Linked DNA regions of Homo sapiens. The protein of the gene in region 1 purifies or fractionates together with the protein of each later gene. This does not show direct contact. Each region holds a gene or a part of one and is shown in the gene's direction. Other genes may lie near its edges.

What was found.
Region 2: the proteins of PODNL1 (region 1) and BBS7 purify together in Homo sapiens (co-immunoprecipitation; one large-scale study listed by IntAct). This does not show direct contact.

What each region holds. Positions count from the first base shown.
Region 1 is NC_000019.10:13,932,767-13,935,471, reverse strand, and holds part of PODNL1 (podocan-like protein 1 isoform 4 precursor), read left to right. Parts: intron 1-1,061; coding exon 1,062-1,218; coding exon of another isoform or gene 1,219-1,229; intron 1,230-1,478; coding exon 1,479-1,594; intron 1,595-2,016; coding exon 2,017-2,674; coding exon of another isoform or gene 2,675-2,705.
Region 2 is NC_000004.12:121,856,900-121,860,739, reverse strand, and holds part of BBS7 (BBSome complex member BBS7), read left to right. Parts: intron 1-1,561; coding exon 1,562-1,748; intron 1,749-3,840.

The sequences.
Region 1 (2,705 bases):
GCCTGTAATCCCCGCCACTCAGGAGGCTGAGGCAGGAGACTGGCTTGAACCCAGGAGGTGGAGTTTGCAGTGAGACGAAATCGTGCCACCGCACTCAAGCCTGGGCGACAGAGTGAGACTCTGTCTCAAAATTAAAAACAAAAACAGAAACAAAATGCCTTGCCCTGGAGGGCTTAACCAGGGACAGATCCCTAGCCTTGGGGAGTGGGAAGAGGGCATAGTTCTACCCTGGGAGGAGAGTGAGCGGGGAGACAGGGCCCTGTATGCTGTGTCAGAACTCCAGACTGAGGTGGAGACAGTATGTGCAGGGACACACACACACACACACTTACACAGACTCACATACACACCTGCACACACAACCACATGAACACATGCTCATGCACACACAATCACATGCACACACAAGCACACACACAGACTCACATACACACCTGCACACACTTCCAACCACATGCACACAGGCACACACTCATGCATGCACACGCAATCACATGCACACACAAGCACACACATGCACATATGTACACAATGCTCACACTTTTGCACATGATCACATGCACACATGGACATACATGCATACACACAGTTGCACACTCGGCTGCACACACACAATCACATGCACACTTATGCACAGGCATGCACACATGCACACCCACACTTACAATCACATGCACACACTCACCCATGCACACTTATGCACAGGCACATAGCACACACTTGCATATACATACACACATGCACGCCCACACACTCTTACAATCACATACACACGTGCACACACACTCCACATATGCACTCATTACACTTACACATGCACACTGCTCACACATGCACACACGTCTATTCATACAACACACATGCACACTCACCTGCACACCTACGCACAGTCACATGCACACATACACAATTACATTCCCACACAGACTCCACACATGCGCGCGCACACACACACACACACACACACACACACTGAAGGCGACCCTGAGCAGGGTGTGGTGCGGGAGTGGGGTGGTAGGAGGCGAGGGGCAGGCTGGTGGCCGGAGCCTGGCTCTCCTCAGGTCCGTGTACCTCCACAACAACCAGCTGAGCAACGCTGGCCTGCCCCCCGACGCCTTCCGCGGCTCCGAGGCCATCGCCACCCTCAGCCTCTCCAACAACCAGCTCAGCTACCTGCCGCCCAGCCTGCCGCCCTCACTCGAGCGGCTCCACCTGCAGGTAGCCCTGCTGTAGGTCCCACCCCGGGCCAGACTCTCTTCACCTCTTTCCAGGGGGACCCCTCCAGTTCCTAGCTTTCCATTCTTCTCAATTGCCCCTCAGAATGCCAGTGGTCAGAGTTATCCTTCTTTGAATCACTTTATTGGAAATCGCTTTGAGCTCAAGGCAAGCTCCTCGTCACTCCCTTACTCAAGAGCCGTCTGTGGCTTCCCGCTGCCCTCATCCCAGACTCAAGTCTCATTCTCTTCTTCCTTCTCCAGAACAATCTCATCTCCAAGGTGCCCCGAGGAGCCCTGAGCCGCCAGACTCAACTCCGTGAGCTCTACCTCCAGCACAACCAGCTGACAGACAGTGGCCTGGATGCCACCACCTTCAGGTACAGGCTGGTTGGGGGGCAGCAGGGGCTGAGAATTTACAGTCGGGGGTCCCAACCTTCAGTCCCCCTTCCCTGACTGGCTCCTAAGCCACGGCCTCATTTACTGAGTGCCTGCTGCTCACTGGGCTCGGCAGAGCACTGGGTAGGTGTCCCTGTTCCCCACAGCCCTGCACTGACATCGTAAGTCTCACATGCCTTTCCATCTCGGCTCTACCCTGGTCACCCCCATAGCTAACTCTCAGGCTGGAATCTGCCCTGGGCACCCCAAGTTTACCTCCCACCCAGCTCTCTCCACGCATCACTCCCAAGTCAAAATCTCCAGCTTAAATCTGTCTCAGGACCACTCCCCAGCCTCCCCGCCAAAATCTGTCAGGCACCCCACTCCAAGTGCCCCACCTAACACCGACCCTCTCTCCTTCCAGCAAGCTGCATAGCCTTGAATACCTGGATCTCTCCCACAACCAGCTGACCACAGTGCCCGCCGGCCTGCCCCGGACCCTGGCTATCCTGCACCTGGGCCGCAACCGCATCCGGCAGGTGGAGGCGGCTCGGCTGCACGGGGCGCGTGGTCTGCGCTATTTGTTGCTGCAGCACAACCAGCTGGGGAGCTCAGGGCTGCCCGCCGGGGCTCTGCGGCCGCTGCGGGGCCTGCACACGCTGCACCTCTATGGCAATGGGCTGGACCGCGTGCCTCCAGCCCTGCCCCGCCGCCTGCGTGCCCTGGTGCTGCCCCACAACCACGTGGCCGCGCTGGGTGCCCGTGACCTGGTCGCCACACCGGGCCTGACGGAGCTTAACCTGGCCTATAACCGCCTGGCCAGCGCCCGTGTGCACCACCGGGCCTTCCGCCGGTTGCGTGCCCTGCGCAGCCTCGACCTGGCAGGGAATCAGCTAACCCGGCTGCCCATGGGCCTGCCCACTGGCCTGCGCACCCTGCAGCTGCAACGCAACCAGCTGCGGATGCTCGAGCCCGAGCCTCTGGCCGGCCTGGACCAACTGCGGGAGCTCAGCCTGGCGCACAACCGGCTCCGGGTCGGCGACATCGGGCCAGGCACCTGGCATGAGCTCCAAGCCCTCCAGGTCAGGCACAGGCTGGTTAGCCACACTGTCC
Region 2 (3,840 bases), on another chromosome or scaffold:
ATTGGCTTGGTGAAATTAGATTAAAATTAAACCATGATAAGTGGAAATATGTAATTTCAAATGGTTTAACAAGAATAGTAACACTTTTGAAATACACTTGTATATAGACATGGCCAATGATAATTATGGAATACTGAAAGTAATGTGTTAATAGCATAACTCTACATTCGGACAGTTATATGGATAGTAGTGTGAGAAAGATAGAGAGTTTCTCAGTAACAGTCTCTTCAAGTGGTTTCTTAAATGTTTTTACTAGAGTGGCAAAGATGGGATAGAAAAGTTCTTTACTCAATTTTTGAAAATTGATTGTCTGAATCCCCACATTTGTAAGGTTTTATAGGAAAACAAAAGTTATAACTTGAAGATATTCAGTAAGGAAACTGACCACTTAACATTAGTCACCACATATCCTTTCCTGCTTAATGTTGCCATGTATCCCCACTCATGTCAACAATAGAGATTGCTAAATAGTACTTTGGCCAATATAATGCAAATATAATACAGATTGGTTTCAAAATGGAATTTAAAATTTTGAAAAACATAGAGAATTTCATGAAATTGATAAAAATAGTAAGAGGACTATTCAATCATATGCAGAGCCACAAAGTGAGGCCACTTAATAACTGAAGAATAGAAAATCAGGGAGGATTATTATAGGATAAGCTCTTCAGAGAATAATTTTAATATAAAATTTTTTAATAGAACTTGGAGGTAGAGGAATACATGAAACATTCAAATAAAATTACCCTCTTTATGATAAATATGGTAATAACAACCTAGAAGTGAAAAATATATCACACTTAAATATAATTTTTGTCAAGACATTTTAGCTCACCCAAGTGAAAACTCAGTTCAGTCTAAGAATTAGAATATAGTTATGACTATTGACTAAATTTTGTTAAATGTAATATGAAATAAACTTGTTTTCATTTCTTTTTTCAAGATAAAGTTCTAATGAAATCTTTTTTTTTCTGCTGTTTATCATTTAGTTTGAGGTAGAATCACTTAAAATAGACTTTTTCAGGCAATTTAGTGTGGTAGTAAGAAAGCTAACTCGAGCAAAAAACTGAGTTGCAGTCTAATCTACTACTTAATACTTAGGTGCCATTAGGCAAGTTATTTTACATTTTATTATTCACCTGTAAAAGGAATAATAATGGTCCTTATTTTATAGAGTTATGATGATTAATTGATCTAATACATAAAAATCACTTAAGATAGTGCTTGGCACATAGTACACAAAGAAGTCATTTTTTGATGTATTAATTGTCTTTGGATATAGACAGTTAAATTATCATTATCTTGTCTTTGTTTTCCATTTTTCTGAGCTCAGTTTTTATTGAGAAGCCCGAGGCCTTAACATCCTCATTTTCAGCTTTCAAAATCAAAAACAGTGTTATACCAAAAATACTAGGAATTAACTAGGAGAAAGTTTTAAAAACTGTGTTCTCTAAGTCTATAATAAAATGTTAGTAAACTGTATACATTTTTCTGTTTTTATCTCTGAAAAAAATTCAGTACCTGTGCTTATTTTTAAAAATTACTATTTTAATGTTCTCAGGCACATATCTGGCTCAGACCTCTTTCTCAGTGCAAGTTACATCTATAACCATTATTGTGACTGCAAAGACCAACATTATTACCTTTCTGGGGATAAAATCAATGATGTGATCTGCCTTCCAGTGGAAAGATTATCTCGTATCACACCTGTATTGGCCTGCCAGGACAGAGTGCTCAGAGTTTTACAGGTTGCTGTTATTTGTATTTTTCTAATTTTTTATATTATGTGAAAGAATATCAATGAACATTATGTACTTGAGATAAATTAGTGGTTACTGTTTTAAGGGCTTTTATAAACATGTGGAAACAATTTTTAAATAATTTGACATATTAATTTTTTTAACTTGAGTCAAATGTGTTGTTTTGTAAGTTTTTAAGAGAAGCATATTTGGAAGAAAAAGGATTTTTTTTGCCTCACCATACACAATTTCTGAGCTATTATCAGAATGGAGTACTTTGACTACAGAGAACCTTTACCTGCCTTTTTGTTTTGTTTTCTTCTTCCATCACCTTTATCTTCCCCAAAAATCAAATTAAAGGAAGAAATTGGGTTGGAGGGAGGATGTTATATAACTTGAGTTTATCCAGTGTTTATGGAAGTATATGGAATAAGCACTCAGTAAATATATGTTGGATAAGTAAATGAGTGATAGAGGGAAAATTCATTTTGATGTCCTTATATTTCTGGTAAAAACCACGATTGGCTAAAACAACTGCTTCAGGTCATTGTTATGAGTAATAATAGTTACCACTATATCTTCTTGAGAGTGACTTTCAATAAAATATATGCACACACACACACACACACACTCTATAGGATGCTTAAAATAATGTTTAAAGGTAAATAGCATGTAACAGTTAGATGAACTGTATCAGAAACAGGCTGATATAGTTGGTGCAGTTGATGAAAAAGTTGAGCTGTGAAGTCCATGCCACCACAGGCTATCTCACTCTTTGGAATTCCATAGTCAGATGGCCATTTCTTGGCATCAGCCCTTTTGTAAAAGGAAAAATCCAGTGAGTCTATGAGGTTTTTACCCCCCAGGGACAAAGTAATGTTAAAGGTTCATTTTAGGCCAGGCATGGTGGCTCACACCTGTAATTCCAGCACTTTTGGAGGCTGAGACGGGAAGATCATTTGAGGCCAGGAGTTTGAGACCAGCCTGGCCAACATGGTGAAACCCTGTCTCTACTAAAAATACAAAATTAGCTGGGTGCAGTAGCACACACCTGTAATCCCAGTTACTCAGGAGGCTGAAGCACAAGAATCACTCGAACCCAGGAGGCGGAGGTTGCGGTGAGCTGAAATTGCATCACTGCACTCCAGCCTGGGCAACAGAGGGAGACTCCATCTCAAAAAAAAAAAAAAAAGAAAAGAAAAAAGGTTCATTTTAGAGTTATGAATGATTAATTTCCCCCATAGCCTATGCTTTTAAATATGAATTGTTTTGAACAAGGCTTTTAACAGGAGCTGTTTAGCATTCAATTAGAAATTGACTGAATTCTAGGATTCTGCTTTGACAAGAGATCCATATGCTTATTATTTTTAAAATAATTACTAAAGATCTGTAGAAAATAAAGTTGAAGTCTTTCCCTCTGCACCGCATGCTTTTTTCTCACTCCCCGTCTATCTCTGTGAATAATCCATTACTCCAGAGGTTGCCTCTTTTTAACAGTTTTGTGTATATTCTTTTGTGTTTATATAGTTACGTGTAGATATCTGTAAATTTTAATATGATATTTTAAATAAAAGATAAAACAGGCTGGGCACAGCGGCTCAGGCCTATTACCCCAGCACTTTGGGAGGCCGAGGTTGGAGGATCACTTGACTCCAGGAATTCAAGACCAGCCTGGGCAACATAGCGAGACCCCCATCTCTTAAAAAAAATTTAGCTGGGCATGGTGGTGCATGCCAGTAGTCCCAGCTACTCAGGAAGCTGAGGTGGGAACATCATTTGAGCCCAGAAGGTCGAGGCTGCGGTAAGCTATGATCACACCACTGCACTGCACTCCAGCCTGGATGACAGAGTCAGATCCTGGCTCAAAAAAAAAAAAAAAGATAAAGCATATGGCTTTCTTACGTTTTCTAAATAAACATTAAACTTTTTTTAGTCCTGATGTGGTGGCTCACGCCTGTAATCCCAGCACTGTGGGAGGCTGAGGCAGATGGATCACCTGAGGTCAGGAGTTCAAGACCAGTCTGGCCAACATGGTGAAACTTTGTCTCTACTAAAAATACAAAACTTAGCCAGGCATGGTGGCCTGCACCTGTAATCCAGC